2 linked regions of the Homo sapiens genome follow. Changing the gene in region 1 together with any one later gene gives a genetic interaction. Each region holds a gene or a part of one and is shown on either strand. Other genes may lie near its edges.

Region 1 (3,500 bases):
AAACAATAGAATATATCATATATAAATAATATATCATATATAAATAAGTACAATCAGCCTTCTGTATCCTGTGGGTTCCACATCTGTGGACTAAACCAACTGCGGATTGAAAATAAGGAAAAAAATTCTATCTGTACTGAACATGTACAGAATTTTTTCTTATTATTCCCTCAAGAATACAGTATAACTATTTACATAACATTTACATTGTATTTAGGTATTATAAGTAATCTAGAGATGATTTAAAGTATATGGGAGGATGTGTATAGGTTATATGCAAATACGCCATTTTGTATTAGGGCATCTGTGGATTGTGGTTATGAGCAGAAAGTCCTGAAACCAATCCCCCATGGATACTGAAGGATGACTGTATATAGAATCTATAAAGCACTACAAACCACAAAAATGTGGCCAGGTGCAGTGGCTCACGCCTGTAATCCCAGCACTTTGGGAGGCTGAGGCGGGCGGATCACGACGTCAGGAGCTTGAGACCATCCTTGGCTAACACGGTAAAATCCCGTCTCTACTAAAAATACAAAAAAAAATTAGCTGGGCATGTTGGCATGCACCTGTCGTCCCAGCTACTTGGAAGGCTGAGGCAGGAGAACTGCTTGAACCCGGGAGGCAGAGGTTGCAGTGAGATCACGCCACTGCACTCAAGCCTGGGTGACACAGCAAGACTCCATCTCAAAAACAAACAAACAAACAAAAAAGCCAGAAAATTGGGCAAAGGGGATAAATAAGCAATACAGATGAAATATAAGTGACTGTTAAGTATGGAAAGTTCAATGTCCCATAATCAAGAAAATGCAAATTAAAATACCAATGTGATACTTTTTCACCCAGACTAGCAAAAGCTAAGCATTGATAATCACCCATTGTACAATATGTATGAAAAATGCAAAGAAGAAAAAAACGCTGCTTATTTCATAAATATATGGATATACGTGCAGAGAAAAGGCTGGCAAAGGTAAACAACTGCTAAGTAACTTCTGAGGTCATGACAGATTTGGGTTTTGATCAAAGGGAACTTTGGTTTCACTTGTATTGACTGACAATGACAAAACAGTTTTTGTGTCATGAAAACTAAAGGTAAAATAATTTTGAAGATCAAGGAAAACAAATATTTAGTCCTAAAGTAGCACTACTCATGGTAGCAAGTACCAGAGCTGGTCCATGAACAGTTTCCAGTTTGCAGTGAGTTAAGTACAGGAATTGTGTTTCATAATTTTTTTTTTGTTTTTTTTTTTGAGACAGAGTCTTGCTCTGTTGCCCAGGCTGGAGTGCAATGGCGTGATCTTGGCTCACTGTGACCCCTCCAGGGTTCAAGCAGTTCTCCCTGCCTCAGTCTTACAAGTAGCTGGGATTACAGGCACCCACCACCACGTCCAGCTGATTATTGTATTTTTAGTAGAGACGGGGTTTCGCCATGTTGGCCAGGCTGGTCTCGAACTCCCGACCTCAGGTGATCCGCCCGCCTTAGCCTCCCAAACTGCTGAGATTACAGGCATGAGCCACTGTGCCCGGCCCTAGAAATTTTTAATAGCAATTTGATATAATAATTTTATGACTGCTGAATCTAATAAAACTTGAGCTTATGTTTTTGTCTTCACTTTTCTAGTAATTCATTTTTTATTGAATTTTACAAAAGTATACATCTAGTGATTTTTTTTTAAAAAAGTCCTTCGCAGTTTGAGAAGCACCCCTCAAGTACTCATAGATATTCAGAATTTGGCCCAGTACAAGGCAGATGGCAATCTGGAATACAATGTAAGCTATGGCAGTTAAGAATTTTGGATTATGGTCCATTCAGTTACTTAGCTAGAAAGGGTAGGATTAGTAGTTCAGTGGTCTAATCCAGGGGTGGATAAACTTTTTCTTTAAAGAGACAGTAAATATTTTCGGCCTTGCAGGCCCTATAACCAGTTTCTGTTGCAACTACCTAACTTTTCTGCTGTATCATGAAAATAGCCATAGGTGATATATAAACGAATAGGTGTGCTACATTCCAAGAAACTGTGTTCTAAAAACGCTAATGGGCTGGATATGCCTGGTAGGTAACAGTTTGCCAACCCCTGGTCTAATCCCATTTCAAAATCAATGCAAAAAGGACATAATCAGTGCTGCAATACTTTTATTCATTAAAGTCAACATTACTTCTCTGTAACCACTCTGAAAAATTCCTGTTACCACTGAAACCGAGGAGTGAATGAAATCCACCAATTTCAAGTTCTATGCTAAAACATGCTTTGTCGTTATACCTATAACTATAATAAAACAACCTCATATTCTGCACACTTCCTAAGTCCGTAGATATTCCCCAACTACAACTGTATAGGTAAGGAATTTGAGTCATGTGTATTTGACATAAAGGCCTTGGAATTGCTGTTCTGGCTTTTCATAGTTATCCAGCAGCACATATTCACCAATTACAGAAATAATACCTCAAATACATCTTAAATATAAGATGCCACAGATAACTCCCATTAAATTTTAACAAATAAGGTATAACTTTAAGTAACAAAATGCATCCCACAGGAAATAGAAAATGGCAGTTTCATTAATCCTAGTACCTGTCCAAATTCCCAACTGCTTAAACACCTAAAAAAGAAAGTTTCAGTGGATCTTTCAATTTGCAAAGCACAAATTGCCAATTTTATGGTGATTTTCACATTCAGCTTACAAATCAATTAAGAGACATTAAAGGTGTTCTTATGGCTAGCCACAAGAAGAAATTACATGGCCTCTTTTCCTATTGGCTTTGTGGTCACTATAAAGTTTGTCACTGAAAGAAGTATGCCGGGAGGCCAAGGTGGGCGGATCATGAGGTCAGGAGATTGAGACCATCCTGGCTAACACGATGAAACCCCGTCTCTACTAAAAATACAAAAAATTAGCTGGGCGTGGTGGAGGGCGCCTGTAGTCCCAGCTACTCAGGAGGCTGAGGCAGGAGAATGACCTGAACCTGGAAGGCAGAGCTTGCAGTGAGCTGAGATCGCGCCACTGCACTCCAGTCTGGGCAATAGAGCGAGACTCCATCTCAAAGAAAAAAAAAAAAAAGAAGTATGCCAACTTTCTCTACTCTAGCTAACAGAAGTCTGGAAGAGCATATTTGTTCCTCAGACCAGATATCACAACTTCAAAGAGACAAAAGATTAAAAGGACAGGAAAAGGTAAAAGGATTCCTTAGGAAGACCCTGACCCCTGAAATCCCATGAGAAGTAACAGAACAGGACAGGGCCTGCAAGCCAAAGAACATATGAGTCACAGCAGGATCAGAACTGCACAGTGAATGCCGAACTATTACCTTAATCTCATTAGAAATGTCCATTCAATAAAGAAAATCTGATTTTATGGATCAGTCAGCTTTCCTCTAATGAGCAAACACCAATAAAATGATTTACGAACCAGCTGGACTGGATAACAGTTATGTCTATTGATTAACACTGTCACATTAACTTACGTGATTACGTTAAGTGCAAGCTCAGCAGAATGACATC
Region 2 (4,018 bases), 5.4 Mb from region 1:
ACAGGCGTGAGCCACTGCGCCCAGCCGCATTCTTGTTTTCATCTGTGAAATACGTTTTTAAGGTAAATACTTAAAGTTGATGGAGACACCTGGTCTACTTAAGCTCTCATTCAGAACACACTGCCTTGTGCTTTTAAAAAAATTAAATGGATAATCTAAATTGGCAGCTACCAATTAATTTATATCCATAGTTGCTAAAAAATGTTAGTGTAAGTTCATTTTTATTAGTCGCATCATTTTGAGTTTTAAACTATTTCACATGCAGTAAAATTTATACCTCTTATGGGTTTTGTCAAACAGTGGTTTAGTCACCAACACAATCACGGTATAGAAGCTCTCAAGCTCCTTTTCAGTCACCCCCTTCCTCCAGCCCTTTGCCCTGGTCGCCACTGATCAGTATTCTCTCCTTTTAAAAACACTTATTATTTGGAAATAATTATAGACACAGGAAATTGCAAAAATACTACAGCACCTAGAGTCCCGTGTACCTATCACCTAGTTTCCTCCAATGGTGACATCTTACACAACTGTAGTACAAGATCAAAAAACTATGTCATGTAGTTTGAAGGCAGGTTTTCCTTTCACTTCTTCGCCTGCATTTTCTCCTTTCATTTCCAACAAATTTAACTCTGTTGTTAGAAGGAGCAGATGCTAGTTTTCTTTCAGATGTCTGCTATTTCAGTTCGATTACCCCTGTTACTCCTACATTTTTTCTAGTCTTTATCCCCATCGTTTCGCCCCAATTTAATTTTGCTGCTAGTTTTTTTTTTTTCTCCTCTGGGATATGTGCCACAGATGGTACTATTGTCAATATTCGAATTCCTAACTTCTCCCTCCATCCGTAAGTTTTCAAGGGGTAGCCGTGCTTGTGCTTAATTGTGGTGTTTACAGGACTTTTTGTAGCGTAAGCATGCTGGCATGGTTCCCCAACCTCTTAGGGGGATGCTAGTAACCCGCTCCCCCGTCAACGAGCCGCCTTTGTGCTCCGCGGAGGGCACCGCCTGCGTTGGGTTGGAGGTGGGGGTTGGCGGGGGAGAGCTGCCCGCCAGGCGAGGGGCGGGGCCTTGGCGGGGGTGGTCGCGGGCGGCGGGGAGGTCTCGCTTCCCTCCTCTCCACCCGCTCCCAGTCCCGGCCTGGGTCTCAGCCCCGCCCTGCCCAGAGCGCGCGGCCGATCACGTCACCGGCCTGCGCTAGGCGGCCCCCACGGCGCGGGAAGGCGCAGTGCGCACGCTCCGACTCGGCCGTGGCGGACCTGACTGAAGGAGGCCGCGGACCTGACTGAAGGAGGCCACGGCCACTTCTGGTTGGCCTCGGGGCGCGCTGGCTCGGCTCTTCCTCCGCCCTCGAGGCCCCCGCAGTCCCATCATTCAGTTCCGTAGGGTCACCGGCGCGGCAGTGGCCTCGCAGGGCGCTGGGTCCCTCTCCCCAGCTCTCCTCCCCCTGGCCCCGTCGCCCCGCCCTCGCCGGGCTGGGCTGCGGGGTCAGGGGCCGAGCGGAGAGGGGTGAGTATTCCCCACAGCCCTTGCCGGTTGTCTCCTCCCGGCTCTGCTTCCCACACGGTCCTTGCCCCACTCCTAGGACAGGGAGGAAGGGCACGCGCGGGTAGGCGGGAAACAGCCCAGTCCTGAACAAAAGGCCGGGGAAGCGGGTCCCCGCCGGTAACTGCAGGCCTGTGCTGGCCGCCGCGAGCGGGGAAGGGCGAGGACACTCCCTCCTCGGGGACCCGGTCCCCGTCGCGCACACGGTGTCACCAGCACACCTGGCCCAGTACCCAAAGCACCCTCGAAGTGGGTAGTAACTACTTTGTGTTTAAAATCCACATACTGATAGCAAATCTTTGGTTGAAACAGTATTAAATTACTGGGGCTTCCAGTGGCTGAGTCCAACTTAATTTGAAGTTTCAGATTAAGTATCAGGAGGAATAACTTGATATTTAGAGCCAACAGGTCTTTCTTTTTTTTTTAAACCTCCCAAAAAACCTATAAAATCAAGAATTGGCGGGGAGGACCGGAGAATGATAAAGGAATAGTTGACTGATTTATAGAAACTTTTAGTGGCGGTAAAAATTACAAAAGTATTGGAAATAAGGCAAAAGGACAGCATGTTTTTTTCAGAGTCAAAATGGAGCCTAACAGGCCCACCTGAAGATGATTTAGATGTCTAGGGGACTATATTTTGTTTGGCATGATGATATTGATTAGGGCCTAGGCTTTGTAGTTAACATCTTTTTCATTAATGGAGATGCAAATTATTTCTGAGTGGGAGAGAAAAAAATACAGTACTCCTAAAGGTTGTAGTTTTAGTGCCTTGTAGGATATTAGCCATTTTTCTTTTCTTTTTTTTGAGACAGAGTCTTGCTCTGTCGCCCAGGCTGGAGTGCAGTGGCACGATCTCGGCTCACTGCAACCTCTGCCTCTCGGGTTAAAGCAATTCTCCTGCCTCAGCCTCCCGAGTTGCTGGGACTACAGGTGCCCGCCACCACGCTCAGCTAATTTTTGTAAGTTTAGTAGAGACGGGGTTTCACCATATTGGCCAGGCTGGTCCGGAACTCCTGATTTTGTGATCCGCCTGCCTCGGCCTCCCAAAGTACTGGGATCACAGGCGTCAGCCACCGCGCCCGGCCAATATTAACCATTTTTCTGTCTAACCTATCAAACTTACCATCCTTTCTTCAGTGTTTATGCTCAGTTCCTGAAATGCTTTTGAGCACACTAAGCCATTCAGCTTGTTCCATTGTGAGTTTAATAAATCTTTGTCACAGGTTCATTTTGAGTCATATTTATAACTTTTGTTATTGGACAATGGTCTCTATTCTTTAGTGGCAAAAACAAGTTTATGCTTCTCAGGATGGAAGGACATAGGCCCTGTGTGGTACTCAAATACATCTTAGGACTCCAAGTAGAATCCTTTCTCATTGCTTCAGAAAGGTTAAACAGTGACCAGAGGAAATGTTACAGAACTTTGACCAAAAAATAAATCCTGAGTATTGAGAAATTAAAATTAAAGTCTTGCAAATTGCAGAGTTTAAAAATTGTTATTGATATTTTAAATTGAAGAAATTAGTGGAAATAGTAGTTCTAAATTGCATACATTTGAATGTGGAGTGTTAAAAGATTATTTCCCTTGTCTCCTGTTTTATTTAGGATAAGGTTAACTGAGATTTTGGTACATGGTGGGCCATTCAAGTTATGTATAATGTTTTGTGACAAACTACATGTCGACAGTAGTTCCTGATGCCTAATACATTTCTGAGAAAGGTAAAGCAGCCCTTTAGGAAAAACAAGGAGAGTAAAGCTTACAGAAGATTTCTTAAGATGGGCTTGATTTGATTATCTTTGAAACCTAGAGATGTGTTTGGGACCCAGGAGGTTGTGTTTGAATCATAAATATAATCAGGGAACCTTAAGAAAAAAAAAGCCATGGAGATCATTTGGTGATTATCTATTGAAAACAAATGTTTTCAGGGGACAAGCAGCCTGAGTATAATAAAGCAATTAGAAAGTTGGGGAATGGAGAATAGGAGAATAAGCTGTACCTGAAGGAATCTTAATTAGGGAATGGTTGCTGAAAACTGCAGAGACAAGACTTCTCTAATGTGCTTACCTGATCACATAGTTTTATAGGATCCAGGAAGAGGGCTTAGTAATAGGAGTGTAGCTTTGAAGCTAGGGTTATTTCATATCACTGTCATGTAACATCTTTCTGAGAAAACCTTTTTATCATCTCTTCTGAGCTCAAGAACCTACACTGGTTTCCTATTGCCAATTGTTTTAAATGGAATCTCCTTTGGGTTTTTTGGTTTCTTCTTTTGGTTTTTTAAGAAGTGGGGTCTCTAAGTTGCCCAGGCTGGAGTGCAGTGGCTATTTAGAGGCACAATTAGAAGGCACTACACAGCCGTGACTCCTGGCTCAAGCAGCCCTCCTGCCTCAGCCTCCTGAGTAGTGAGGACTAAAGGCGAGAGCTATGTCTCCAAGCTTCCTTTGAGTTTTAAGACTGTAAACTTCCTGCACCCTGTCCC

The links. Genes that interact genetically often act in the same process or in processes that back each other up.
Region 2: of CCNH (region 1) and ATG10, changing one suppresses a phenotype caused by changing the other (phenotypic suppression), as found in Homo sapiens cells (one large-scale study listed by BioGRID).

What each region holds. Positions count from the first base shown.
Region 1 is NC_000005.10:87,395,931-87,399,430, forward strand, and holds part of CCNH (cyclin-H), read right to left. Parts: coding exon 3,464-3,500; exon of another isoform or gene 3,463-3,463; intron 1-3,462. UniProt on the Homo sapiens protein: Regulates CDK7, the catalytic subunit of the CDK-activating kinase (CAK) enzymatic complex. CAK activates the cyclin-associated kinases CDK1, CDK2, CDK4 and CDK6 by threonine phosphorylation.
Region 2 is NC_000005.10:81,970,805-81,974,822, forward strand, and holds the start of ATG10 (ubiquitin-like-conjugating enzyme ATG10), read left to right. Parts: upstream 1-1,218; 5' UTR 1,219-1,502; exon of another isoform or gene 1,503-1,787; intron 1,788-1,804; exon of another isoform or gene 1,805-3,257; intron 3,258-4,018. UniProt on the Homo sapiens protein: E2-like enzyme involved in autophagy. Acts as an E2-like enzyme that catalyzes the conjugation of ATG12 to ATG5. ATG12 conjugation to ATG5 is required for autophagy. Likely serves as an ATG5-recognition molecule. Not involved in ATG12 conjugation to ATG3.